3 separate regions of the Homo sapiens genome follow, and regions 1 and 3 are each linked to region 2. Evidence: fine-mapped expression QTL. A gene starts in region 2. Each other region holds a variant in brackets. All regions are shown on one strand. Distances are between the middles of the regions. Region 1 holds the start of ISM2 (isthmin 2). Region 2 holds the start of SPTLC2 (serine palmitoyltransferase long chain base subunit 2). Region 3 holds the start of MIR1260A (microRNA 1260a).

Evidence for each region. PIP is the estimated chance that this variant, and not a neighbour inherited with it, causes the effect.
Region 1: its variant is fine-mapped to the expression of SPTLC2 in whole blood (TOPMed, PIP 0.98).
Region 3: its variant is fine-mapped to the expression of SPTLC2 in whole blood (INTERVAL, PIP above 0.99).

What each region holds. Positions count from the first base shown.
Region 1 is chr14:77,490,054-77,500,769 of GRCh38, reverse strand. It overlaps ISM2 (isthmin 2), which reads left to right and starts at 1,954. Exons shown (of 7, transcript NM_199296.3): 1 at 1,954-2,117. The coding sequence starts at 1,977. RefSeq lists enhancers at 1,271-1,330, 9,111-9,610, 9,611-10,112 and silencers at 1,701-1,890, 2,161-2,370, 2,411-2,470. The variant C/G (reference allele first, on the strand shown) is at 4,307.
Region 2 is chr14:77,611,924-77,622,639 of GRCh38, reverse strand. It overlaps SPTLC2 (serine palmitoyltransferase long chain base subunit 2), which reads left to right and starts at 6,003. Exons shown (of 12, transcript NM_004863.4): 1 at 6,003-6,192. The coding sequence starts at 6,061. RefSeq lists silencers at 5,577-5,636, 5,967-6,016, 6,157-6,356 and enhancers at 5,676-6,208, 6,537-6,746.
Region 3 is chr14:77,258,501-77,266,500 of GRCh38, reverse strand. TMEM63C (transmembrane protein 63C) reads right to left here. Exons shown (of 24, transcript NM_020431.4): 24 at 7,006-8,000. It overlaps NGB (neuroglobin), which reads left to right. Exons shown (of 4, transcript NM_021257.4): 4 at 1-1,018. MIR1260A (microRNA 1260a) reads right to left here and starts at 283; the gene lies at 211-283. It overlaps LOC124903351 (a long non-coding RNA gene), which reads right to left and starts at 6,682. Exons shown (of 2, transcript XR_007064276.1): 1 at 5,359-6,682; 2 at 2,674-3,111. The variant T/C (reference allele first, on the strand shown) is at 3,558.

The DNA.
Region 1 (10,716 bases), 120 kb after region 2:
TTTGAGTGTTTACCATGTACCAGGCACCCTATTAGGTTGCACCATATGAAATTGCCAATATTCGACCTTTTGAACAAAACATGGCAACTTCATATAGTTCATTCTAATACAAATTCTCAACATGGAAACCTGGCTTCTCATTTACTCACATTTACTTCTCATTTACTCACATTTACTTCACATTTACTTCTCATTTACTCACACTTCTCACACTTGGTGCCCAGGTGAGAGGGGTAACCTCTCCTGCTCCCGGGCCCCCACACTTTTACAGATGACAAGAGCACGAAGACGTCAAATAATTTGTCCAATAATATCACCTACTTGGTAAATGGTGAAAGATTCCAGTCCCCATGGCCGAATCCAGACCCAGGTTGTCATCCCTGTGATGCACCATTCAAAACCCTGCAGCTGTGCCCCTGGGAATAGGAGTAGTTCCAGAAAAGCACACAGTCCCCCCACAGTCTTACTCTAACTTGACCCAGACCCAGCAGTTTACACCAGTAGCTGGGCTTGCTCTTCATCCTCTCTACCACCCCTGGGGATCCACCAACCCTGCCCTGAAACTTGAGTCATCCTTTGTGCGCCCTGCTATGACCCCTGGGTGGGCATGTCCCCAGTGCCTTGTGACTGCTCCTCACCGACCTGTCCCAACCCCTCCCCCTACCTGGTGTCACTGCGTTCACATTCCCAAGCTGCCCCATCCAGATTGGCACTGCCTCTCAAGAGTTCCTGATCTTTGCCACAAGCTAAGGTTTTGTGTCGGTTGCTCAGAGGCAGGCCATCTTGGTGACCCTCGTGGCCTACGTGAGGATCCCTGCACCAAGGGTCCCACTGGATGAAGTGGGCAGTTTCACTGTTTCACCCAGGATACAACTAGGCGACGACCAGACTCCCGGCTGTCCTTCTGGGACTTTATCCTCACATCTGAGTCTCAACTTTCTCCTGTTTTGTTTTCTGAGACAGGGTCGCACTCTGTCGCCTAGGTTGGAGTGCAATAGTGCAATCTCGGCTCACTGCAGCCTCTGCCTCCCAGGTGCAAGCGATTCTCCCACCTGTGTGTGGGCCAGGTGCGCCGGACCTCGGGGCTCCCACCCGCTGGGACTACGGGTGCGCGCTGCCACGCCCGGCTAATTTTTGTATTTTTAGTAGAGACGGGGTTTCACCTTGTTGGCCAGGCTGGTCTCAACTCCTGACCTCAAGTGATCTTCCTGCCTCGGCCTCCCAAACTGCTGGGATTACAGGCGTGAGCCACCGGCCGACTCTCCGGTTTTTAAAAGTGCTCTGAGAACATTCCGAGGACACTGGGTGCAGAATGGCAGGTGCTGGCTTGTGCCTCTGCTCTGGTCTCCACCTCCGGCAGTAGACTGGGAAGAGCCCTGGGGGAGTTACTTCTAGGCTTCCTCCCCAGCAAACCTTCCTCGAGGCATAACCAAACATCTGCCCGGCATCCGAAGACTCGCGCCACTCTCCCGTCGGGCTGCGCCTCCCTCGCCCGCGCGGCACCGCCGGTCCAGGTCGCAGTTGGAGCGCGGTCGGGGAGGGCAGAGGTGGCGTCGGACCCTCAGGGCCCCGCAGGAGTCGCAGCGCAGGGCCGGAGCGCGCCGGGCCGCAGCTTCCCGCGAACAGGAATTCGCTGGGGGCTGCGACGGCGACAGCGGCGGGGACTGAGGGCGGGGAGGCGGCCAGATCAAAGAGAGCCGCCCACAGGGTCAAGACGGGTCGGGGAGCGCCGAGGGGCCCCTCGGAGGAGGGTGGGGGACGTCCAGGTGCGCGGACCCTAGAGCTGTGCGGGCGCCCACGCGAGGAGCCGGGGCCAGAGAGGCTGTGCGAGCTGCGCGCCCCCGCCCCGCGCGGCCCCGTGCCCCGCGCGCCCCTCAGGATCGCCGGGTCCCGCCCCCGGAGGAGGCGAGGCGGGGCGCGACTGGGTTCGCGGCCGCGTGCAGAGGTGCAGGCAGAGCAGCCTCGGAACCGAGACGATGCGTGCGCTCCGCGACCGAGCCGGGCTCCTCCTCTGCGTGCTGCTGCTGGCGGCGCTGCTGGAGGCGGCGCTAGGGCTCCCCGTGAAGAAGCCGCGGCTCCGCGGACCACGGCCTGGGAGCCTCACGAGGCTCGCAGAGGTGAGTGGCGGCGGCACCGGGCTGCGGAGCGCGCTGTCGGTCCCACCTCCCCAGCCCGCCGGCTCCAGCCGTGCGGGGAGCGGGACCGGGACACACACAGGCAGCGACCCCCCGATGGAGAGAGGGGCCGGGGCCGGCCGGAAGCTCCCGGACACCGGGCGTTGCCCAGGTGCGCCGGACTTCGGGGCTTCCACTCCTCGCGCGTGACCGCGAGCCGGGCTGCCGCGGACCAGCCGGGTGACAAGTTTGACTTCTGTGCGGAGTGAGGTGGCCGACACTCCACGGTGGCCGGGCTTCCTCGCCCTGAGCGGACCTCGCCTGCAGCCCCCTTTCCAGGTGCGCGCTAGCTCGGAGAGGAGTCCCGCCGGTGCGAGGAATCTGGCGCTTTGCGGAGTGGCGGGCCAGGGCCGCTGAGGTTCAAACGGTCAGGTGAGCCCCTTCCATGAGACAAGCGGAGGCACAGTGGGGCTCTCCAGCCGCCGGCAGGGGTGGCCAGCCTGAGACTGGCTCTGTCCTCGTGGCCTGTGGGTGGGCATTGGGGTATAAAACAGGAATGAGATGGAAGAGTGGTGTTGGCCATGGAGAGAAGCCATGGTCTGTCAAACCCTGTGTCTTCCAGTCACTGAGGGGTCTACAGTCCAGCTTATTGCCCCCTGGAATGCAGCGGACGTTCATTCCCATGGGGACAAAGACAGCCAGACTTGTATTAGGGTATGCAGGAGCAGTCCTATGTGGCAGGTGGTCTTAGGTCTTGGGTCCTGGGTCCTTCCATGTACTAAGCTGTAGGAGGCCCGAATAGCTCTTCCCATCTTGCCGTTTTTCCTTCCTTCCTTCCTTCCTTCCTTCCTTCCTTCCTTCCTTCCTTCCTTCCTTCCTTCCTTCCCTCCCTCCCTCCCTCCCTCCCTCCCTCCCTCCTTCCTTCCTACTTTTTCTTTCTCCCTCTCTTTTATTTTATTTTTGGGACAGGATCTCTCTCTGTCACCCAGGCTGGAGTGCGGTGGTGTGATGATAGCTCACTGTAGCCTCAACCTCCCGGACTCAATCGATCCTCCAGCCTCAGCCTCCTGGGTACCTGGGAGCGCAGGCATGCACCACCACACCTGGCTAATTTTTTTTATTTTTTATTTTGTAGAGATGGGGGGGTCTCACTGTGTGTCCCAGGCTGGTCTTGAACTTCTGACCTCAAGCAATCCTCCTGCCTCAGCCTCCCATAGTGCCAGTATTACAGGCATGAGCCATGGTGCCCAGCCATTCTTCTTCTTCCTTTTTTTTTTTTTTTTTTTTTGAGACAGAGCCTCATTGTGTTGCCCAGGCTGGAGTGCAGTGGCACGATCTTGGCTCACTGCAACTTCTGCCACCCGAGTTCAAGCTATTCTCCTGCCTCAGCCTCCCAAGTAGCTGGGATAACAGGCGCCTGCCACCGCGCCTGGCTAATTTTTGTATTTTTAGTAGAGACAGGGTTTCACCATCTTGGCCAGGCCGGTCTTGAGCTCCTGACCTCATGATCCACCTGCCTCGGCCTCCCAAAGTGCTGGGATTACAGGTGTGAGCCACTGCACCCAGCCATTCTTCCCATTTTTGAGATGACGACACTGAGGGTCCATATAGGCATGCAGGGTGTGGGAGATTGTGAGTGAGTGAGTGAGAGAGTGAGAGCCAGAACTTGTCCAGACTGCTGAAACCCTCCAAAGGCCGTGGGAAGGAATGGGGAGACTGGCTGCACTTGAGGATGTGTCTGTAGACCAGTTTTGCTACCTTTTTTTCTGCCCCCTTAAGGAGTCTTTTAGGTTTTTTTCCTGTCCCCACTCCCCATGAATTTTTTTTTTTTTTTTTTTTTTTTTTTTTTTTTTTTTCCTGAGATGGAGTCTCACTCTGTCACCCAGGCTGGAATGCGGTGGCACAATCTTGGCTCACTGCAACCTCCGCCTCTCGGGTTCAAGCAATTCTCCTGCCTTAGCCTCCCCAGTAGCTGGGATCACAGGCTCACGCCACCACGCCCGGCTAATTTTTGTATTTTTAGTCAAGACAGGGTTTCACCATGTTGGCCAGGCTGGTCTCGAACTGGCTGGTCTCGAACTCCTGACCTTATGATCCACCTGCCTAGGCCTCCCTAAGTGCTGGGATTACAGGTGTGAGCCGCCACGCCCGGCTATTTTTTTTCCCGGAGACGGAGTTTTGCTCTTGTTGCC[C/G]AGACTGGAGTGCAATGGCGTGATCTTGGCTCACCACAACCTCCGCCTCCTGGGTTCAAGCGATTCTCCTGCCTCTGCCTCCCGAGTAGCTAGGATTACAGGCATGCGCCACCACACCCAGCTAATTTTGTATTTTTAGTAGAGATGGGGTTTCTGCATGTTGGTCAGGCTGGTCTTGAACTCCCGACCTCAGGTGACCTGCCCACCTCAGCCTCCCAAAGTGCTGGGATTACAGGCGTGAGCCACCATGCCCGGCTGAATTTTTTTTTTTTTTTTTGGCATGGAGTCTTGCTCAATCTCGGCTCACTGCATCCTCCACCTTCCAAGTTCAAGCGATTCTCCTGCCTCAGCCTCAAGAGTAGCTGGGATTACAGATGCCTGCCACCACGCCCAGCTAATTTTTGTATTTTTTTAGTAGAGATGGGGTTTCGTCATGTTGACCAGGCTGGTCTCAAACTCCTGACCTCAAGTGATCCATCTGCCTTGGCCTCCCAAAGTACTGGGCTTACAGGTGTCAGCCACCACGCCCGACCTCCCCATGACATTTTAATACCATAGATACACTGTCTATGTATTATAGCCCTTTGGAATGTCACAAACCATTGTAATATCTTAAGACTTTTTGGTCCCTCACAAGATCTAGTTATTGCCCCTATTGAGAATGCATCCTTTAGACTGGCTCTTCTCAGCCTCGGCACCCTCGTCATTTTGGGGCATATAATTCTTTGTGGTAGGGGCTGTTGTCTTATGCTTCATAGAACGTTTAGCAGCATTCCTGGCCTCTACCCACTAGGCGCCTGTAGCACTTGCCGCCTCACGAGGCCCAGACACTCCACATGCTTCCTGTGGGACACCCTATCCCCACTGCCCGTAGTGGAGAATGACTGTTGTAGACAGATGAGGCCTCTCGCCAGTCCCTCCTCCTACATGGAGATGACAGTGATAATAAAATTAACTAAATTGGCATTGTTTCTGCTCACTTGGCATGAATACTTTCTATTTTAGTACTTACTGCTTTGTATTGTAATTATTTTTAGCATGTTTGCCAAATCTTCCCCTAACAAGAACACCCTAGAGGATGAGTTATTTCAGAGCCAAAATCATATCCTCAGCTCCCGTACAAAGCCTGGCAGAGTCATCAAAAACATGTGAAAACAAATTAGTGCCACAATGAAAAAGCAGAGCTTAGAGTCTAGGCCTTGGAGTTCTGGTCCCAGTGGGTCATTAATGCATGTGTGACTCACCTCGGATGATTTCCTCACATTTAAAAAGAGGGGCCTGCGTGGTGGCTCACACCTGTAATCCCAGCACTTTGGGAGGCCAAGGTGGGAGAATTGCTTGAGCCCAGGAGTTCAAGACCAGCCTGAGCAACATGGCGAAAACCCATCTCTACCCCCCAAAAAATACAAAAATTAGCTGAGCGTGATGGTGCGCCCCCCGTAGTCTCAGCTACTCTGGAGGCTGAGGTGGGAGGATCTCCTGAGCCCAGGAGGCAAGAGTTGCAGTGAGCTGAGATCGCGCCACTGCACTCCAACCTGGGTGACAAAGCGAGACCCTGTCTCAAAAATAAATAAATAAAATGAAAAAAGAGAGCTGAGAGAGCCTAAGTCATCTTTATGGTTCTGTCCAGCTCTGACATCGTTCCATGAGTCTTCATGATTTGTGTTAAAGCTGTCTATGGCAAAGGTGTTAGTTTAAGGAGTCATGTTGAGAGAATGCAGATTGCTATTCTAGGGACTTGGGTGGCGTGTCACAAATAACTGACCAGGCTGGGTGCAGTGGCTCACACCTGTAATCTCAGCACTTTGGGAGGCTGAGGAGGGTGGATCACTTGAGGTCAGGAGTTCAAGACCAGCCTGGCCAACCTGGTGAAACCCCATCTCTACTAAAAATACAAAAATTAGCCGGGCATGGTTGTGGGCACCTGTGGTCCCAGCTTATTGGGAGGCTGAGGCAGAAGAATTGCTTGAACCTAGGAGGCAGAGGTCATAGTGAGCCGAGATTGTGCCACTGCACTCCAGCCTGGGAGACAGAGTGAGTCTCCATCTCAAAAATTAAAAAAAATTGAAAAATAAAAAAGAAATAACTGACCAGCCCAAAGACCTTAATGAAGAAGCTAAAGAACATCAAACCCCTGAATCTAAAAGTAAAGGTTGCTGAAAGGGAAGTGAGCATTTTCTGGGCCTTACAGAGTCCATATGAATTACTTAACATGAGAATATTTCATTGTTACACCACTTTGACATGGGCATGATCTCCATTTTCCAGATGAAAAATGGAGGCACAGAAAAGTTAAGCCTAGCCAGGAGCCAGGTCTGGGACCTTATGGTACATCTTTGCATGTCATGTTCTAGTCTGCTCATCTGAAGTCTTGAAAAGAATCACAGGGCCGGGAACGGTGGCTCACGCCTGTAATCCCAGCACTTTGGGAGGCCGAGGCGGGCGGATCACAAGATCAGGAGATCAAGACCATCCTGGCTAACACGGTGAAACCCCATCTCTACTAAAAATACAAAAAAAAAAAATTAGCTGGGCATGGTAGCAAGCACCTGTACTCCCAGCTACTCGGGAGGCTGAGGCAGGAGAACGGCGTGAACCCGGGAGACCGAGCTTGCAGTGAGCCAAGATCGCGCCACTGCATTCCAGCCTGAGCGACAGAGCGAGACTCCATCTCAGAAAAAAAGAAAAGAAAAGAATCATTCGGCTGGCCGCAGTGGCTCACGCCTATAATCCCGGCACTTTGGGAGGCCGAGGCAGGTGGATCACTTGAGGTCAGGAGTTTGAGACCAGCCTGGCCAACATGGAGACACCCCATCTCCACTAAAAATACAAAAATTAGCCAGGCGTGGTGGTGGGCGCCTATAATCCCAGCTACTTGGGAGGCTGAGGCAGGAGAATTGCTTGAACTAAGGAGGCAGAGGTTGCAGTGTGCTGAGATCGTGCCACTGCACTCCAGCCTGGGTGACAGAGCAAGACTCCCTCTCAAAAAAAATAATAATAAATAATTAGCCTTGTGAACAAAATATGGCCCCTGCTTCTCTGGGCAGGCCTGTTGCTGAGCCTCAGTTTACTCCCACAGTAAAATAAGAACCCATTCTGTCAGATGCAGTGCTGGGTGAAAAAGCACCAGACACATGGATGGTGACATCGTCATAAAAACAGGTTGTGGGCCAGGCATGGTGGCTCATACCTGTAATCCCAGCACTTTGGGAAGCCAAGGCAGGTGGATCACTTGAGCTCAGGAGTTCAAGATCAGCCTGGGCAACATGGAGAAACCCTGTCTCTACTAAAAATACAAAAATTAGCCAAGCTTGATGGCATGCACCTGTAATCCCAGCTACTGGGGGCTGAAGTGGGAGAATTGCTTAAGCCTAGGAGTTTGAGGCTACAGTGAGCTGTGATTGATTGCACCACTGCACTCCAGCCTGGGTGACAGAATGAGACCCTGTCTTTTTTTTTTCTTTTTTTGAGATGAAGTTTCGCTCTTGTTGCCCAGGCTGGAGAGCAATGGCACAATCTTGGCTCACTGCAACCTCTGCCTCCCAGGCTCAAGCGATTCTCCTGCCTCAGCCTTCCTGAGTAGCTGGGACTACAGGCATGTTCCACCATGCCCGGCTAATTTTGTATTTTTAGTAGCTATGTTGGTCAGGCTGGTCTCGAACTCCCGACCTCAGAAGATCTGTCTGCTTCAGCCTCCCAAAGTTCTGGGATTACAGGCGCGAGCCACCATGTCTGGCCGATCCTGTCTTCAAATAAATAAATTAATTAAATAAAAGAGGCTGGGCCAAGCCAGGCATGGGTAGTGCATGCCTATAGTGCTAGCTACTTGGAGGGTGGGTGGGAGGATCACGAGGAGTTCGAGGCTGCTCTGAGCTGTGAACACACTACTGTACTCCATCCTGGGCAACAGAGCAAGACCCTGTCTTGAAAAAAAAAAAAAAAAAAAAGGCTGGGGCCAGTTTGTTGAGTGCTGGACAGGCAAAGAGTGACCCAGCTCTGTCTTGGGTATTTTCTGTTCTAGTTAGGATGAGAACACCACTCAAACAGCCGCCATGTGTGTTCCTTGTCTTATTATCATTTTAGGGATGAGAAAACTGACAGCGGGCCCAGTAACTAACCCAAGGTTAGTATGTGGTGAGCCAGGATCCCCACTCAGTTTTGCTTAATTCCAGAGCCCCTGGGCACCTAAACCTGGCACCCACCACCTCCCTGGCAGGCAAGGGAAGACCTTGGCATGGGAGAAAGAAGAGCTGGGGACTTGGTGCCACAAAGGGGTTGAGGGGGTTAGAATTAGGCAAGAGAGGCTGGGTGTGGTGGCTCATGCCTGTAATTCCAGCACTTTGGAAGGCCAAGGTGGGAGGATTGAGGCCAGGAGTTCACAGCTCCTGTGAGCTGTGATTGCACCAGTGCACTCCAGCCTGGACTACAGAGTGAGACTCTGTCTTTATTTAAAAAAAAAAAAAGGTGGGGGGCTGGGCGGTGGCTCACGCCTGTAATCCTAGCACTTTGGGAGGCTGAGGCAGGCGGATCCCCTGAGGTCAGGAGTTCAAGACCAGCCTGGCCAACATGGTGAAACCCCGTCTCTACTAAAAATACAAAAATTAGCAGGGCTTAGTGGCAGGGGCCTGTAATCCCAGCTACTCGGGAGGCTGAGGCATGAGAATCGCTTGAACCCAGGAGGTGAGGTTGCAGTGAGCCGAGATTGTGCCTCTGCACCCCAGCCTGGGTGACAGAGTGAGATTCCATCTCAAAAAAAAAAAAAAAAAAAAAAAGACCAGACGCGGTGGCCCATGCCTGTAATTCCAGCACTTTGGGAAGCCAGGGCGGGTGGATCACCTGAGGTTAGGAGTTGGAGACCAGTCTAGCCAACATGGTGAAACCCTGTCTCTACTAAAAATACCAAAAAAATTAGCCGGGCATGGTGGCAGCCACCTGTAATCCCAGCTACTTGGGAGGCTAAGGCAGGAGAATCACTTGAGCCCGGGAGGCAGAGGTTGCGGTGAGCCGAGGTCATGCCACTGCACTCCAGCCTAAGCTGCAGAGTGAGACCCTATCTCTATTTAAAAATAAATAAATAAACAGAGGAGACCTGAGAGAGGACTGTTCTTCCAGTCTGCAAAGACTGTCCCACCTGGAGCGGGATGGGGGTGGTTTGTGCTGCCGCAGCAGGGGTTAAATGGCCATGAAAGAAGCGCTTGTTGAGGGTATAGGCTGAGACAGAACAAAGGGCAGAGGAAGGAGCCTGGGGTCCCTGAGAAACCTGAGGCAGTGTCATGAACATGGTGGGGGTGCCCCCCCAGCACTTCAGTCCCGGTCCATTGTCCAGCCAGTTGCCTGGAAGCAGGGGCTGGATTGCCGGAGATTTGCAAGGTCTCACCTGCCAGGTGGGTGGCAATGAGAAGGATGTATTTCCTAAAGGCTGATTTTATCTGGTTGTGGGGTCTTTCTAGCCCAATCAGTGAGTGAGTGCCAGGGGAGAACTAGAACCTAGGTCTGTGTGGTGCCAAGCCTGTGGCCTCACCTGCTAGCCTTCTCCTGCAGCTGGCCACCTTCCTGGACCTCAGCTATGGCCTTCCTTATCCCTCCAGACCATTCAGTCTCTAAAGGGTTGGAAAAGCCCCCAGGGAGGGAGAGAGAGAAGGACAGGAATGAGGCCTGGAAGCTTGGCTGCCCAGAGGCCTCAGGCAAGTCTCCAGCCTCTCCGATCTCAGTCTCAGGTTGTTACGAGGATCAAAGGGAAGGATGGACGTGGAGAGTTGAACATCCTGTATAGTGTTTTGTTCATCCAGCACATTCAGCACCGCAGAGCAGCAGGCGGCAAACCAGAAGGTGCAGCCACTGCCTGGAGTTAGCAAAGCACAAGGCTTAAGAGCACAAACTCCAGCCATACCACTGACATCAAATCCCACTCTGCCAGCCCCTAGCTGTGTGACTCCAGGCAAGTTACGTTACCTCTCTGATCCTTGGCTGCATTGTCTATGAAGTGAAGATGATGCTCACACCTACCTAAAGTGTTGTTGTGAGAATCCAGTGAGTCTGTACATATAGGGTGATCGGCAAGACTGGCTCCGTTCTTTTTCTTTCTTTTTTTATTGCCTTTACCTGGGAAAGCCAACTGGCCACATTTTTTGTGGGGCCCAGTGCAGAATGAAAATGTTGGGCTTCTTGGCCGGGTGCAGTGGCTCACGCCTGTAATCCCAGCACTTTGGGAGGCCGAGGCGGGCGGATCACGAAGTCAAGAGATTGAGACCATCCTGGCTAACATGGTGAAACCCCATCTCTACTAAAAATACAAAAAATTAGCCGGGCGTGGTGGCTCACGCCTGTAATCCCAGCACTTTGGGAGGCCGAGGAGGGCGGATCACGAAGTCAGGAGATTGAGACCATCCTGGCTAACACGGTGAAACCCC
Region 2 (10,716 bases):
TTTGTTGGGTACAGATTAAAATCTCTACTAAGTGCTTAGCTGGCACCCTGGAGGTGTATAATCAGAAACCATCATTCCTCTTAAAGCTTCATGTTTGCATGCAAACATTCATTTAAATAGCTCAGGCCTCAGGGTCATAATGCAATTCTAAACTCTTGTCCCAGGACCTGCCCAGTTTTGTGGATGCAAATATTGCCACTGAAAATAGTCCAAAAACAGCATCCAAGATTTTCCACAAAAGTAGGATCAGAAACCCAGGGAGAGAATTAGTCTATTTCACTTACTCTATTAGATTAGGAATAATGAAAGGGGAAAGAGCAGACGCATTTCTTGTAAATCAAGACTGAAAGCTCTACAAGTGCAAATACCATGTTTCTTTCTATTTGTCATTGTATTTGCAGTACCCAACATGATGGCCAGCAAAAAATACTTGTGTGATTGGCCTAATAGATAAATGAATGAATGAAGCAAGAAAAGTTTGAAAAGGGAAGACCAGGCCAGGCATGGTGGCTCATGTTTGTAATCCCAACACTTTGGGAAGCCAAGGTGGGTGGATCACTTGAGGTCAGGAGTTCAAGACCAGCCTGGCCAGGATGGCAAAACCCCGTCTCTACTAAAAATACAAAAATTAGCTGGGCATGGTAGCATGCACCTGTAATTCCAGCTACTTGGGAGATACAAGAATCGCTCAAACCCAGAAGGCAGAGATTGCAGTGAGCTCAGATCACACCACTACACTCCAGCCTGGGCAACAGAGTGAAGTTCCATCTCAAAAAAGAAAAAAAAGAAAAGAAAGAAAGAAAAAGAAAAGGGAAGACCAAATGATGCTCTCAGAGTCAGGTTCAAATAATACCTCTGCATCATCTATCTCTGGTTTTTGTGCAAAAGCAGATTACTTCTGAAGGGCCCTTTCCATTCCATCTTGTGGTTCTTCTTTTTTTTCTTTTTTCTTGAGATGGGGTCTTGCTATGCTGCCCAGGCTGGTCTTGAACTCCTGCGCTCATGTGTTCCTCCTGCCTCAGCCTCCTGAAGAGCTAAGATTACATGTGCCTACCACAATACACAACTCTATCTTGTGATTCATCTGCAGCCTTGACTGATATAAAGGACATTGGCCATTTCTGCCTGCCCAGTGTCCATTCCCTTTTTCTATTAAGTCCCCCATTTCCCTTTGGGAAATCATCTCTTCTCATTTAACGTACTCTTCTTAAGAGGGTGTGTCTTGGTAAGCACCTCCCATCATGAAAGGTGAAGGACACTTTTTCCTTTTGTTTGCACCTTTTAGGACCAGTGCGACGTAAACTCAAACAAGCAGATATTCTCTCCAGTATTTGACTCTTGACCAAGTGACCCAACAATGGAAGGGGTAGTTAGAAGTCATTTATTTTGGCAGGGGTGTTGCTAAGAGAAAAAATTCAAAGAAATTAAATTTAGACCGGGCACAGTGGCTCGCGCCTGTAATCCTAGCACTTTAGGAGGCCTAGGTGGGTGGATCGCCTGAAATCAGGAGTTCAAGACCAGCCTGGCCAATGTGGTGAAACCCTGTCTCTATTAAAAATACAAAAATTAGCCAGGTGTGGCGGCGGGAGCCTGTAATCCCAGCTACTTGGGAGGCTAAGGCAGAAGAATCACTTGAACCCAAGAGGCAGAGGTTGCAGTGAGCCGACATCGTGCCATTGCGCTTCAGCCTGGGCAACAGGAGCGAAACTCCATCCTAAAAAAAAAAAAAAAAGAAAAGAAAAGAAAAGAAAAGAAAAAAAGAAATAAATTAAATTTAACAGAATTTAACTGAGCAAATAATGATCCTCAAATTGGGCAGCCCCCATCCAGAATCAGAAGGTTCAGAGAGATTCCAGCACTGTCACATGGTGAGACAGGATTTATGAATAGAAAAAGGAAAGCAACATACAGAAAACAGAAGTGAGACACAGAAACAGTTGGAATGGTTATAGCTTGGCATTTGCCTTATTTGAACACTGAACAGTTGGCTGCCTGTTGAGTGGTTGAAGTATGGCTTCTGTGATTGCCTGAGGCTTGGCTACTTGTTTGGGTTTTTTGTTTGTTTGTTTTTGTTTTTGAGACGGAGTTTTGCTCTTATTGCCCAGGCTGGAGTGCAATGGCGCGATCTCGGCTCACTGCAACCTCCACCTCGCGGGTTCAAGCGATTCTCCTGCCTCAGCCTCCCGCCCGCCACCACGCTGGATAATATTTTTGTATTTTTAGTAGAGATGGGGGTTTCACCATGTTCGCCAGTCTGGTCTCGAGCTCCTGACCTCAGGTGATCCGACCCCCTCGGCCTCCCAAAGTGCTGGGATTATAGGTGTGAGCCACTGCACCCGCCAGCCTCCTTCTTTAACATCCATTCTAAGCTATTGCTATTTGTCCTTTTCACTCCCGGGTTCTATCTCCTTGTAGTGAACACTGTTAGGGTTGTTCCTCCCTTCTCTGCTATGATTCTTCCTTGTCTATAACTGATTCCTCCCCTCCAGCAGTTTGACCTTGTGCTCTGGCCATTGCGATTGGTCAGATTTACCCATCCTCACCATAAGCTAGGCCAATCAGATTTCTTTTTCCTGAGAGTGTAGAAGTTTGACCTCATGAATATGAAAGTTGTAGGTTGTTGAGAGCTAAGCACCAGAAGTGGTTTGGTTAGGAGGAAGGAAGGTCTATAATTTTCTGCTGCTGAGGTTTAGGATTTTCCTGAGTGCCAACACTTCCCTGTCTTCAGGAGAGTTCCAATAAATTTACCTTTCTTGAATAAGTTTTTTAAAATTGGCTTATGTTATCTGCAACCAAAGAACCTCAATTAACACAGTCTCCATGTGATAGAAGGTTCCTTGGAGACAAGGCCAAAATTTTTTTTTTTTTTTTTTTTTGAGACAGAGTCTCTCTCTGTCACCCAGGCTAAAGTGCAGTGGCACAATCTCGGCTCACTGTAACCTCTGCCTCCCAAGTTCAAGCAAGTCTTGTGCCTCAGCCTCCAAGTAGCTGAGATTACAGGCATGTGCCACTACGCCCGGCTAATTTTTGTATTTTCTGGAGAGACGGGGTTTCACCATGTTGGTCAGGCTGGTCTCGAACTCCTGGCCTCACGTGATCCATCTACCTCGGCCTCCCAAAGTGCTGAGATTACAAGTGTGAGCCACCATGTCCAGCCAAGGCCAAATTTTAATTCATTTATCCATTTATGCATTCATCAAACATTTATTGAGCATTTGCTATGTGACAGACACGTGGTAGGTACTGGGAACCCAAAGATAAATTAGACAATCCCCTCAACTCACCAAGCTTGTTGCCTAATTGTAAGTATAAATGTATTCAATCAATCATTCATTCACTTAATAAGTACTTCATTTATCCAATGAATAATTACCAACACTCATTTAATATTATGTAACAGGTCTTGGCACTAAATGCTTTTGTTAATTCTCCAACTCTATGAGGTATATCCCATTTTACAGAAGAAGTACCTGAGTCATAGAGAGGTTAGGCAGCTTTGCCTAAATCATAAGGATTCTAGGTGCTGAAACCGGTCTTCAATTATGGTATATCTGACTGCAGAGCTCTTGCTTCTAAGCATTGTGTAACCTCCCTCTCAAAGAATCTCAAAGCAGTGTGATACATGCTTACACAGGTGTGTATAAAGCTCACAGAGGAGAAAGCAACTAATTTTGTGGGGAGGTTGGGGTTCAAAACAGGCTTCACAGTTGAAGTGGTTTGAGCAATCTTGAAGGAAGAGAAGGGTTGTCTTCCTGGTGCCTAGCACAGAACTTTGCATATGAACACTGTAAAATGATGATTAAGCGGCTTATGTTTCTGGAAGGAGTTGTTTTCCTGTTTACATGGAGTCTGGGGTGTTTCCTACTGCCTACTGCAGCATCATTTTTGTGATTTAGCAATGGCATGTGAAGTAATCAGATCATCTGTATATCACTGATGCTCACAGAAGCCTGTAAGGTAAGTAGTACAGGTACACACTTTGTAAGATGAGTGAGGAAACCAGGGCTGAGTTTGCATTACTTGTCCAAGACTATACATAGTGAGTAAGTGGCGGAACAAGACAAGGGGCCAGCCCCCTGAGGAGGGATCGGCTAACAGGACTCCTCAAATCTAGCCAGACTCCTTTACTCCTCTTAGCCTGCAGGTGAGGCTTTGATCTTTCTAGACTCGACACCCGAGTTTCTGAAGGTTTCCTCAGAACACCCTCCCCATCCTTCTCAGTTCCAGCTCTCCAAGTCCCGCTCATCTTCCAAGATCTGTCTCATTGCACATCTTCCTCGCAAGCCTTCTCCAGAGTCATTCAGCTCACTCCCTAAGCTTCAGTTAAATCCCTTAGCCCTGCTTCCATCCAGATTCCTGCCCTGAAAACTTTCTACCTGGTTAGACTCATCACTGCCATTCAGCTTCCCTCATCAGAACTCCTGTTGCCTAATCTCTCCAGCCTTAGGTTGGTCTTTAACTATTGTTTTCTTTCTATGTGTATATCTTGTCTCTCACTGAAATGTAAGCTCCATGAAGCACAGCCACATGTTTCCTTTTTAGCCTTATACATACAGATGTATATTCACTTTGGGATCAATAGTGTTTGTCAACTCAAATAGGATGTGTGGGATGAATGATCCCACCTTCTGTTAGATTATTCAGCTCCTAAGTCATGCAAAACCAATACCTTGTGGACCTCCTTTCTAAAGCTCCTGCAGGGTGGGGAAAGAATGCACGGATTCTCATAGGTGCATTTAGCAATTACTAGTAACCAACACTTAATGAATGCTTACTAATTGCTAGGTCCTGTACAAAATACATTACATACATAAACTTATTCAATCTTCACGACAACTATTATTGTCCCCACTGAACAGATGAAGACACATAGAGGTCACTCAGCTAGTAAGTGGCGCAGCTAGGATTTAAAACCCAGACCGACTCCAGAGTCCATACTCTCAATTATGATACTAAATTCTTTATGGATAACAGAAAGTCTCTAATTGTAATGTAGATCAATTTCCTTGCTTTCTAACCCCATGGGAAGATGGAACTAAAAGGGTGAGAAAATAATATTTATTATACTCCTACTATAAGCCTAGTATTATAAGAGGTGCATAATGGGTTAATGATATAATTCTTGCTGTAAGTCTATGAAGCAGGAAGTATTAACTCCATTTTAAAGAATTTGGCTTCTAAAGTGGTTAAACACAGTGCTCAAGTTTTAGCTTCCAGTTATTGGCAGAGTTGGAATTAGACCAGGTTTTCTAACTTTGAAGGAAAGACTTAATTTAAAGGAGACTGTATAGAAAACCCTGCCAAGGGCAAATGTGAAGGGCACGTGAAAAGGCATCTGAATTATTACTTATAATAATTCAGAAATAGTGAATGTGTGGCGCATATTGAAGAATGATGAGAGATTGTCAAAAAATCTATTCTATAAACACTCACAGAGGAATCAGCTAATTAAATAAGCGAGCTGCCTGTCTTGGGCTAGGACATAAACTCCAAAACTTCCCACGAGGCAAGGGCAAAGAGGGCGCCACCTGTCCTGGAGAACCTGGGAACCCGCTCTAGAGACTTCGGCTCAGCCCCTTTTATTTCCTCACACTCTAATTGGCTACTTTTCCCTGGGCTCCGCCTCCTCCTCGGTCTGGACCATTAAACAGGCAAGCCCTACCCCGGACCTGGATGCGGCCTCCAATCAGGTGCCAGGCCCTGGAGTCCCTCTAGAGAAGCCCCCTCTCCACCGGCGAGGCGCTTTGCTCTCGTCCGTGATTGGCCAGGCAGCAGCATGGGGTCCGCCTCCTTCTCTTCCAGATTGGTCAGCGGTCCTCAGGACCACATCCCTCTCGGCAGGTCCCCGCCGCTTTTTCCCTTCGCTGCGTGGCCTTGGCCGAGACCGGTCCTCTGCGGAGAGGGCCCCGCCCTCTGTGAAGGCCCGCCCGGGAATTGGCGGCGGCGCTGCAGCCATTTCCGGTTTCGGGGAGGTGGGTGGGGTGCGGAGCGGGACTTGGAGCAGCCGCCGCCGCTGCCACCGCCTACAGAGCCTGCCTTGCGCCTGGTGCTGCCAGGAAGATGCGGCCGGAGCCCGGAGGCTGCTGCTGCCGCCGCACGGTGCGGGCGAATGGCTGCGTGGCGAACGGGGAAGTACGGAACGGGTACGTGAGGAGCAGCGCTGCAGCCGCAGCCGCAGCCGCCGCCGGCCAGGTACGAGGGGCCCGCGCGGCGGGGCCGGGGTGGCGGTGTGGACTGGCGGAGGGGCGGCCGGGCGGGGCGAGGTCTCCGGGCCATCCGCTGGGCAATCCGCGGGGCGGGCGCCGTTCGCAGGTGTGGGCGGCAGTGTCCGGCCGCTGGCCCGACCTCCACGAGCCTGGAGGCTCAAGGACGGCTCGGGGGCTCCCCACCTCTCCGCGCCTGGAGGTCTTACTCCCGGAGCTCTGGGTTCTGCTCAGAGCTCCGGGTACTTTTCTCTGCCCCATTCTGCCAGAAGTGTGTGCTGTCCCCAGGGGAAGCGATGAGGGGCCCTTCGGACTCCAGTGGGAGCCGCCCAAGGGCTCCGGAGGGTCCCTTCTCAAACCCCTGAGGTTATTGCTTCCTTTTAAAGTCCTGCAGTCGTCCAAAGAAAACCACCCATGGGGTCCTTAAGAAGCAAAGAAAATTAGGCGGTGGTGTCAGATGGAAACACACCCAGCCTCTCCCAACCACATTCTGGACTACCACGTTCAGTCCCCAACCAGGACATTGGTCCATAGATCTGGCAGGGAATCCAAGCTGGTCCCTCGAAAGCATCATTCTCTTAACTCTGCCGGTGGTGAGACTCTACCCCAGGCTCCAGGTTGGATTAGGTGGCCCCTTCGACCCTTTCCTGAACACGAGTGCTATCACACAAGGGGATTGTTTAGCCTGGTGGTGACTTGCGATGACTCTATACTAATTAACCATGCTGAATCATCAACCAAGTTCAGGCAGTTCTAAAATATTTTGAAAAGTTCTAAATTCAAGACAATGCTTATTATCAACCTTACAGTGGTCTGGACTGACAGATATTCTGTTGAAATGTGTTTTTAAAGATGAGCTGGTTAAAAAGATGCAAGATCGGTGTTCCTGGAAGAGAGTGTTGCGATAATTTTGCAGTTGACTTTAATACGTTTAAGTCTTGTACAGATATTAAGGAACGCTTAGAAAGTACTCTGTTTCCCTTTAGCGGGAGTGTGACTGTTGCAGTTTGATAGGATGGTGATCTTAATTTGGCTTTAACATAACTACTCCCCAGATGAGTAGTTATGATGGATAGGTCTGTTACTGTTTGCTGCGAAGCAGAAAATAAAGCATTTTTCCAGGTCATGTTGAGATATTGAGACTGAGTTGAGGGGAAAAATAAGTAAAGCAGACTTGACCTCCCCTGAAGTTGTAAGGTGTCAAAGCGAAGTAATACACAGATCAAAAGATTTGTTTTCACTTTTAAAGAAATAATTGTGTGAGGGAGGAAGTGATAACAGTCAGCTCATTATAAGCAGTGGAATAGTTTGTCGTTTTCCTAGCAATGTAAACGACTTATAAGACAAAATTGTTGTGGTATAGAATGTAATAGGGAAATTTAACGGGTAGGAGTTAGAAAATACATTTGCAGGTGAATTTCATTGAGGTATGATTTTTTTTTTGTTTTTGTTTTTGTTTTTTTTTTTCAGACAGTTTTGCTCTTGTCACCCAGGCTGGAGTGCAATGGCGCGATCTCGGCTCACTGCAGCCTCCACCCCCTGGGTTCAAGCGATTCTCCTGCCCCAGCCTCCCGAGTAGCTGGGATTACAGGCGCCCGTCATCACGCCCGGCTAAATTTTGTATTTTTATTAGAGATGGGGTTTCACCATGTTGGCCAGGTTGGTCTCGAACTCCTGACCTCAGGTGATTGGCCTGCCTTGGCCTCCAAAAGTGCTGGGATTACAGGCGCACCAGGCCGAGGTATGATTTTTTTTGTTTTTTTGGTTTTTTTTGAGATGGAGTCTCGCTCTGTCGCCCAGGCTGGAGTGCAGTGGCGCGATCTCGGCTCACTGCAAGCTCTACCTCCCAGGTTCACGCCATTCTCCTGCCTCAGCCTCCCAAGTAGCTGGGCCTACAGGCACCCGCCACCACGCCCGGCTAATTTTTTGTATTTTTAGTAGATACGGGGTTTCACTGTGTTAGCCAGGATGGTCTTGATTTCCTGACCTCGTGATCCGCCTGCCTCGGCCTCCCAGAGTGCTGGGATTACGGGTGTGAGCCACTGCACCTGGCCGGTATGATTTTTTAAAATGAAAAAGGAAGTCAAGAGAAAGGTGTTCACACTTCAGCGTTGCTTTGTGTTCAAATGCTTCTTTCAATCCCTATGAGTTATGTTCAGATTTAGTAGGAAATCAAGGACCTTTCTCCCATAATCTCTAACAATTTAGCATTTATAGAATGATATTTCTTCAGAGCTTGCCAACTAATAAGGTGAAGAAATATCAAGGTACTAACATGACATTTTAAAATCTGTATGAATAACATTTGGTTGACTTTTGGGGACATGTTTTGTAAAAGTTTCACTCAAGGCACATTGGTGGCATTTGGAAGAACGGTCTGTTGGAATGCTGTGAGGGCTGCAGTATCCCTTCTAGAAAACTACTTCTCACCAGTATTTTTAATACAGACTTCAGATCTGGAGCTTTCTACACTCTCAGATGGAGGAATATTGTCTGTGAATATTTTTCTTTCTTATACAAAAGAGAGATCTTGGTAACTACATGAGAGCAATACAATATCTTAACATTTTTTAAAAGTTGTTTTCATTTTTAATTAAAGCGATGTGCTTGTGCTCCAACCTCTACCTATCTTTCCCCTCTTTCTGGGGGGGAAATGTTGCCAACTGTGCCATCAAAAATACGCATACAGCTGTGTGTCATGCTTTTACTAAAATATGAATTTAGAGTATAACATTGTTGAGATGTAAATTCTTTTCCTCACATCTCCCACCATGTCTTTTAATGAACAGGAGAGAAGTCAGAAACGTCTAGGATCACTTTACACTCTCAAGAGTATGTTTCTGTGCTTGAAGAGATGAATGAATGTGTATAGTAAAAGAACAACTCTTGGATTTGGGTTTAGAATTTGATGAGCTAGATGCTGTGTTAAGGAGTTATGAAACAATCACACATTGCTGTTTAGTGATGACAGTAGACACACAGTTTTCACAATAGTAACAGTTGAACAATAGAGCAGTAATTTTTCCTCTCTGCTATTCAGATGAGTGGGAGGAGCACAAACCTTTATTTGAGGTAAGGTGTGGCAATTTGCCCGAGGGAAACTTTTACATTAGCATTGGAAAGAACCTTTGGGAGTTTATTTAATTCAGTCCTTTATCTCTTTGTAGGAGTTTATTAAAATCAGTCTTGATAGAAAATTCTGTACTGTTTTTAAAGATCTCCAGGGGATTTGCAGCAAGTTTTTCTCTATAGCAAATTGGATTATTATTCCATGATCTTAATTACCAAATTTCTTCCTGTGGATTTAACATTTGATGAAATAAATGCCATGTTTTGGTTGCACCTGAAATATAGTAGTTTGTTTGTGTGTTTGTTTTTAAAACTTCACGTTAACAGCTCTTTTTAAAAGAGCTTCCATTTCTTTATAGAAGTTTTGAGATTTAGGTTTTCCTTTTACTTTCCTGAGTTAGTTAATAAGTGTGAAAGAAAAAAAGTTATCTACCTTTGAGACAGTTTTGACCCTAACTTTTTTCCCTTTGGGTGTAGTTTTAATGAGATATTAGAAGGATGAGAGCTCTCTGGCTTACAGAATAAAAAATTCTATCTCAAGGAATTGGGGCAAAAGTTGTGTTCTTATGTTAAATAATAAGCAAAGTAGAAAGAACAAAGTGTTAGTCTTGCTTCTTAGGAGGAGGCAAATAAATAACTAATAAAGCTGGTTTACTAAATAGCTACTAGCTTTTGTTTCCACTGAGGGAGAAACAGTAACTGGGGGTTTATATGTGATAGTTAAGGAAAAGGAGACGATAGTTATGAGGCTAGAACAGTAGAAATAGTTAGAATAGTCATATATCTATTTAGATTTAGCAGATCCTGATAAGATACCTCAGATACCTGAAGGCTTTTCAGAAATAATGTAATTTACAACTTGGAGGACAAGATTTTCATTTCAGTTTTCACTCTAAGGGGAAGCATATCTTGATTCTTACATAGCTGCATCTGAAGAATTCCAGAGTTATTTGAGATACTCAGGAATTTTCTTTAACAGGAATTCTTGGGAAATGTGTAAGCAGCTATGTTCTTAAGATAGTATTTTAGAACTAGGATGTTCAGAAAAGTCAGACTTGCCCACTTTTTAGGGTTTGCCCATGTGCCATAGAAATTTGCACCGCTTTGAGCAAGACAGTTAATTGGTTGATTTAATTAGATTCAGTTTTTGGAAGAAAGAAGCAGTGTTTATTGGTAGAATAGGCAATTCAGAGGGATGGGTAGAGGCACTGTTTGCATTCTGAGTGGGTGTGCCATACTTGATTAAATAAATGGTTTGTGGACTCAAAGTCAGTTCCCTTCTGGGTAGTTTCTGAGAAGCTTCTGTAATATAATTCACAATTTGTGACCGATAAAAAAGTAAGTCCTTTGCTCTTGACCCATTTACTGTTAGAAAATTTATCTTAAGTTTGTCTTTAAGACTACTTTTTATTGCAAAGCTTGAGGCAGCTATTCTTCCTTTTTT
Region 3 (8,000 bases), 350 kb after region 2:
GTCTGTCTGTTGGCCTGTATCTGTTGTAGCCCAGGCTCCCCAAGCTTCCCTGCATCTTGGTCCTTGTCCCCTTGGCCACACTGGAGAGGTGATGGGGCAGGGCTGGGTCTCAGTATCCTAGAGTCCAGCTGCAGAAGGAGTGGCTTTTCCTCCAGGAAGGGGCTTCTGGGTGTCCCCTCATCCCCAGTAGCCTCTTTCTTGCGTTTCTTTTTACCTTTTTTGGCACTCCCTCTGACCCCGCGATGAGTGTTTTGGTGGCAGAGGTGGGATGAGCTGGAAAGGTATGGAGGTGGGAGAGGATGGGGCTCTTCTGTCTGTCCTGCTTCTTCAGGTGAGTGCAGGCCAAGGCGGGGGTGAGATGGCTGAGCTTCCAGCGCCTTCTGTCCTGCCTGCCCAGTCCCTTCACTGCTTTCCTGCCCCAAGATGGCTTGCTTTTCACAAATAAAGAGAAAGAGCAGCTTTAGCCTTCTTGGTGGAATCCCAGGCAGTGGGAGCAGAATCAGAACTGCCAGGGAAGGGAAGGGGGACCTGGGTCTCAATGGGTCTCATTTGAGTCTCGCGGGCTGTGCAGATGCCCTGACAGAGTCGGTTTCCTTTGGCGGCATTCCCTTTCCCTCATTCAGCACTTCTGCTGGGAACTCCCTGACTATTCCGCTGCTGCAGGAACCCAGCTAGCTGGCCAGGTGGGGAGGGGCTGGGGACCGGCCAGGAAGGAGGGGTGACTTCATCCCAGAGAGACCCGAGTTCCCCCAGCCCTTCATCACCAACCCGCTCCTGCAGGAGTGAGTCTTACCTCCCCTGGCCCTCCTTTCTGGCTCAGCCTGCAGCGACTGTGAGGCCACAGCTCCTCAGATTCACTGCCCGCTGTGTGCCAGTACTCAGGCAGCTGGAGAGAAGAGAAGGCAGCAGCAGAGGCCCCCGCCCTCACCCCAGCCATCTGCACTTGTACCATTTGCTCTGTGCTGACTGTGGTCCTATAAATTCATGAGAAATAAACTGGTTCTGTGTGCCTCTCTGACCCTCGGGCCTGATCTTTTCTTGGGTCTTGGCCTGTGCCAGATGAAGCTGCAGGGCAGTGGATCTCAGGACAGGATGGGAGGATGGAGTCAGGGAGGCCAAGGCTGGAGTGGGTGGAACAGGAGGGAGGGGCCTGGGAGGAAGCTCTGGGAAGCCAGTGGCAGACATCTGTGGGGTCTGTGGCCCAAACTGGCTGGCAGACCACAAACCAGCTCTTCTTCCTCCTGGGCACACAGCTGGATGTCATGCAGCCACCCTTGCAATTAGGTGGGGCATGTGACTGGGCTCTGGCCGCTGGACCGTGCAGATGTGTGTGCCACTCCGAGGCCTGGTCCCCCAAAACTCCTGCATGCTCCTCCATGCTCTGTCATCCTTCTGCTGGTGTGATACAGACCTCACAGAGACCATGAGGGCCACGTGTTGAACATGGCAGAGCCACAGGTGAAAGGAGTCCTGACCCTGAATCGCTGCTTGGAGGAAGGTGCCTATTAATCAGAATCACCCATTTTGAATTTTATATGAAAGAGACAAACTTCTCTTGTGTTTATGCCATTACACATTTTGGGGTTAGTTAAACCCATACCCGCACTGATCCATGGTCTGAAGCAGGTCATTGGTCGGGGGCTTGGGACCCCACAGGCTGTGGGCTAGAAAGCCAGCCAGGGACGTGGGGAAGAGAAGCTGTGTTGAGTAGGCATGATTGGAGCAGGTTTGGGGTTACCTCCATGTGTTCCAGCCTCGGCGGCGGGCCCGAAGCCCACGCATGGCTGCAAGGCCTGTGCCTGGGCTGGCTGTCCTCGCCCTGGGCTTCCAGTTTCTCAGCCAAGACTGAATGTAGCAGATGCCCACGGGGCCTTGCCAGCTCCCAGATGGGGCCTCATTTTCTTTAAGCTCAGATGCCAGGCCTGCCAGGCTATGTGACTGCAGGCACTGGGTCTGCAGCATGTTAGGAACGCCTTGGCCGCTGTGGTGCCCAGAGCATTTTCTGGAGCCCTACAGGCTGCAGTGAGTGAGGGCCTCATCTGCTGTGTGACCTATTAATGGGTCAGGCTCAGGTGTCCATGTCTGGCCCACAGCTCTCTAGGTGGCCTGGCTTTGGAAAGGTCTAATGCCCTCCTCTGACCTGTGTCTGAGTCATCCTAAGCATGGATGCTTTCACCTTTTTTGAAAGCCACTCTTCTACTTAGGTGTGAGTGCGTGTGTGCATGGGCATGCACTGGTGTGTGTGCACGCGTGTGTATGCATGTGTGTGTGCACGTGTGCGTGTATGCACGCACGTCTGTATCAGGGGAGAGTATCCCTTACCTCCTCCTCTGCTCAAGGGCTCAGCCCTCTCTCCTGCATCCCTCCTCTATCAGCCCACATCTCCCCTCCTATACAAAGAACAACCCCTCACTTCCTTTCCTCTCCAGCTACCCCTTTGGTTCTTTTCTTCCTTTGATAGCAAAACCCTTCGAAAGAGCAGTCTTTCCTTGCTGTTTTCATCTCCTCACTTCTTATGGGAGGATGGGAACCTGCTTCAACCAGGCTTTGCCCCCACTTTCAATCTACTACAGTCAAGGTCACCAACCACCCTCATCTTGCCAGATGTAGAGTCACATCTTAGTCCTTATCTTCCTCTCCTGCTCAGCAGCACTCGAAAAAGTTGGTCATGCCTTTATTTTTACACTTTTTATTATGGAAAAATGTTAACATACACAAGAATCAAGAGATGAGGGAATCTCCATGCACCTCTTCCCCCAACCACACCCCCCTCCCATTTTTGTTTTTGTTTCTTTGTTTTTGCTGGAGAGTTTTAAAGCAAATCCAAGACTTCATGTTCTTTTACCTGTAAATTCTTCCATATGAATTTCTAGCTGGCACTTTATTTCACATATGAAGCCACGCCATCAATACATCTAACAAGATGAACGGTATCTTCTCATCATCACCTAATTCAAATTCCCTGATGGCCCACATTCATCCACGTGTAGATTTCCCAGACGTCTCTCTGCAGTTGGTTTGTTCAACTCAGGATGCACACTTCGCATTTGATTGTGTCTCTTCACTCTTTCACTTTGGCCTGGCCCCTCTTGCCATTTCCCCTCACCATTGCTGTGTGGGAGAAGTGGGTCATTTGTCTAATGGCCTGTTCAGCATTCTCCACTTGGCTGAAGCTGCTTCGTGGCATCTTTTGACTTATTCCTCTATGCACCGCATTTACTGCCAAGCGTGGTTAGAGCTGGGGACACCCTCCTTCCTTTTTGAGTCCCTCCTGGTTTTCCTTGCCGGTTCTCCTCCCATCTCTTTGTGCTGGCTCAGCCCTCAGACCTCCTCACCTGCACCTGCTCCCATCAAAGTCTCAGCCAGTCCCATGCTTTAATCACCACCCAGGTGCTGATGACATCTCCAGCCCGACTCCTGTATCTAGCCACCTTCTTGACATCCCCACATAGCATCTTAACCAGAACACACTCAAGATGGAACTCTTGGGGTTTCCCTTGGCCTTTTTCTTCCCAGCTTTCTCCACCTCAAACCAGAGTGTGCTGAGTTGTTCATGC[T/C]GAAGATCTGGGAGTCATCCTTGCGTTCCTGCTTTCCCTCAGACCCCACATCTAATCATCCATGAATCCTCAACCTCTGTTCCAAGTTTAACTGCTTCTTTATTCACTCCCTATCCTGGTGCAAGCTACCATATTCTCTCTCCTGAATGCCTCTGACACAGTCCCAACTGGGCTTTTTTTTTTTTTTTTTTTAGACAGGATCTCACTCTGTTGCCCAGGCTGAAGTGTGGTGGCATGATCATTGCTCACTGCAGCCTTGAAATCCTGGGTTCAAGGAATCCTCCTGCCTCAGTCTCCCGAGTAGTTGGGACTCCAGGTGCATGCCACCATGCCCAGCTAATTTTTAAAATTTTTGTGGAGATAGGGTCTTGCTTTGTTGCCCAGGCTGGTCTCAAGCCCCTGGCCCCAAGTAATCCTCTCACCTCAGCCTCCCAAAATGCTGGGATTACAGGTGTGCACCACCACACCTGGCCCCAGCTGGGCTTTCTGCTTCTACTTGTCCTACCCTGGTGACAGTGACCATTTCAGCACATAAGAGTTACATGGGTGGTGGCCAGGGGCTAAGGGGAGGAGGGAATGAGGAATTATTGATTATGGGTATACAGTCTCAGTTTTGCAAGATAAAGAGTTGTGGAGGATGGCTGGTGGTAATGGTTGCACATTACGAATGTATTTCATGCCACTGAACAGGACAGTTACAAATGGTTAAGATGGTGGCCGGGCGCGGTGGCTCACGCCTATAATCCTAGCACTTTGGGAGGCCAAGGTGGGCGGATTGCTTGAGGTCAGGAGTTCGAGACCAGCCTGGCCAATATGGTGAAACCCCATCTCTACTAAAAAATACAAAAATGATGATGGCATATGCCTGTAATCCCAGCTACTTGGGAGGCTGAAGAAGGAGAATTGCTTGAACCTGGGAGGCGGAGGTTGCACTGCACCCAGATCACGCCATTGCACTCCAGCCTGGGTGACAGAGCAAGACTCTGTCTCAACAACAACAACAAAACAAACAAACAAAAAACCCATAAATGGTTAAGATGGTGAATATGATTATGTGTACTTTACCACCACCACCACAACAAAAAAACCTGGAAAACAAACACATAAGGGGATCATACTCCTACCCAGAATCCTCCCATAGTTTCTCAGATGATGAGTGAAACTTGGAGTCCCAGCGTGGCCTGCACAGCCTGTTGCCCACTCAGACCTCGCCCCACCCTCTCCTCCCCTCGCTCACTCTGCCTGGTTCTTTGGGCTCCGCATGTGTGCCCACAGACCCTTTGCTGGCTCTCATGTCTCACCTCCACAGAGCTTGTGCTGGCCTCTCTAGTGCAAAGCATCCTCTCCCCACCTACAGGCACCCCTTGCCCCTATCCGGCTTTGTCTCTCCCTGACACCCCATTATGTAGGCCTATTTGTTTACTGCACTTGTCACGTTCTGTTGCACGGAAATGGGCAGGCGGTCATGGAAGCCACTGGGCTCTGTGTTTGGAGGGGAGGGAAGAGGGACAGTCTTTGAACCCTTGCTGAAGATGACAAGGTAGCCAGAAGTGCCCCTGACACCTGGTGTGTGGCCCTCGGGCCCACATGGTACTCATACTTATTGCAAAAGAAGATAAAGATGGCAGAAGCGTGCCTGAGCTAGGGAGTTGTCATTTCTAAGCTGGCGATGGTGAGATGCTGAGGCCACCCAGGGCATGCAGTGCCTGAGGTTGGGACTGTTTTCCTTATCCACTCACCCCTCCCTGCACACTGGAATCACCTGGGGGACTTTTGTAAAATACAGGGTACTGGGCCCCACCTGAGAAATTTTGGTTTTTCAGGGATGGGGCCTGGACATTGAGAGTGACTCTCCTTTGCAGCTGGGCTGGAGAACCTTGGGAATTGAGGCTGAGAGCTGCCGGGCTGCCACTTGTCCAGGCCGAGGGACTGTCAGATGTTCTGAAAGCAGCCTCTGTTCAGAAAGCCTGGGAACCTGTCTCCCCATAGACCAGGCTCTCCTCGCCTCTGCAAGGCCTTCCACAGAGCAGACCTAGAAACCTGGAATCTGGCCAGCAAGGAGGTTCCTCAGGACAGAAGTGAGCTGCCTCAGGCTTCCCTGGCGGGGCCCCGTGCAGCCCCAGGCTTGGTTTCTGGGCAGAGGCATGGGGCACTCTCAGGCCCCGCTGCTTCCTCCCTGCGCAGCACTCGGTCACGTGCTCCAATCCTTTCTTGGGCACAGCCCAGTGGAGCCAGCCTCCTGGGGCTCCCTCTTGCCCTGCCCCAGTCCCGTCCCCAGCCCAGGTAAATCCACCTTCAGGCCTCCGGTCCATCCTGGCCTGCTGAGTGGAGAGAGGATTGACCAACACTAACCTCCCTGGAGGACATTCCATCCTTGGGGAGACCGCCCTCCCTCTTCGGCTTGTTTTTCTGTCTCTTTCTCAGTCTCTGCCTGATAAAAGGCCCTCGAAAGGTCTGCTGAACCACAGAGTGTCCCAGGCCTGCCATCTGGGGACCCTGGAGCTGCCGGCCCCTGGGAGGGGACCATGAGAGGCAGCAGCAGGGCGCAGCCCCGTCCCGTCCAGTCAGGGAGTCTTCATGGCTTCTCTCCTGCGAAGCAGCCCTTGTGGATTTTAAGGGCTGACTTGACTTGGAAAATAATTGTTTTGAGGGGGAGAGGGGACAAGTGGACGGGTCTTGATCCCACGCCCAGGCCCACACCTTGGTAGACTTTGAGTCAGTGGCCACTGATGGACCGTAGAAGTTTGCGGAGAGGACCCAGCGAGGATGATGCAGGAAAGAGTCCTTAGGCAGCCACCCTGAGACTGTCATCCTCTGTCCCCATAGGGAGCACTGCGGGAGGAAGTCTCCCCCTACTCAACACACCCACAAGATTCCCATCTTCTGCCCTCAAATCTGCTCTGCTCAGTCACGAAGCAGAACAGTCCGCTTCATGTCCTCCCAGCCCTACTGTCTGGATGAGGTGACCAGCCTGGGTCATGCAGCTGCTGGAGGAAGGGACAGAACCAGTCTCCTGACCCTGAGATGTGTCCGCCAGGGCAGGGAACTGTTGTCTCCTTGCCACAGTTATAACAGCCTTTGCTAACGGGTGTTTCTTATCCCACCTGGCTGCCCCACACACTTCCCTCGTGCCAACCTCTCCTCCACCCAACCTCTCCTCCACCTCCCCCATCCCCCAAGTCCCCCACCCTCATCCTCTTGCAGACCTGAGCCCTGTCTGCCGCTCTTCCTGGGGCCTCACCTGAAATCTGTGTGTTTTGAAGTCTGGCCACTAGCCTAGCCCAGTGGCCTGCTCATGGGGCTCAGCACTCACCAGAGACTTCTGCTGCTCCTCGGGGCTGCCCTGCTGGCTTCCTGGGTAGCTCAAGGACCAGAAAGTTCTCTCCACTGCACAGCGGAGCAAGGCCAGGCTGGCCCAGATGCACAGGCAGAGAGGCAGGGGCCAGGAGAGGTTGGGAGGACTTGTTTATTCAAGGCACGGTCATAGCATTAACAAGAAGGTTCAGCATTCTGGCACATTCCTTTTGTGGTGGTGGCCAAGGTTAGCCCACACCCCCTCCCCCCCGACCGGGGGCCCCAGAGGACGCAACGCTGCTGATAGGCACTTTGCTTCCAGGGGCAGTGGAGGGTCAGGCAGGTGGGCATGGGGCCACTGGAGGCCTGAGGAGGGCCCCTCCTGGAGGCTCTAGGCAATACCGGTTCCTGGGCGGCAGCTCCTTCCAGAAAGGATTAAGTCAGGAGGTGATTTGGTGGATGGAGTGGGGTGGGGCGGCTGGGAAGTGGCTGGCAGAGGAGTGGGATGGCAGTAGGTGGGGGGAGGGGGGCAATGGGTGAGGCAGGTGTGGGCTGAGGCAGGAGGTGCCTGAGAGGGCCTGGATGTGGTGGCGGGGGGAGGCTAAAAGATGCCCCCTGCTCCACCATCCTGTAGTGACCATGGGAGGTCCAGATGGAGCCAACTGCCATGAGGCTTTGCTGGTTCCCCTAAGAGTGGACTATGGAACCTTCTCCACATGCTCACCACCTTCTCTCAGAGCCAGGCTACACTGGACCCAGGTTCAGAGGGAGAAGCCCCCAGTCATCCCGCCACATTGTCTGCCAGGACTTTTCCCATATGTGGCTTCCACAGTCCGGCAGGGGCTGCAGGGGCTGGGGGCAGGGGCCAGGGAGCTGTGTCCAGCAAAGAAGAGACCCCAGGCCAGCTTCTGGTGTGACCCCCCACACCCCATACACCAAATACACATGATGGGGTCGGGCAGGGCCTGGAGCTGGCCACCTCCCCATCATGTGCCAAGCTCCTGCTGGGCCTGACCGCTATGCTGTAACAGCGTACTTTCCCCTTGTTGGTTGGTGAAATTCCAGTGGGGAGGGGGCCTGTGGGACCTGGGTGTGTAGGGGCCAGGCTAGGACCATTTCCCCTTTATTCCTAGCTGGACAAGGAATGGG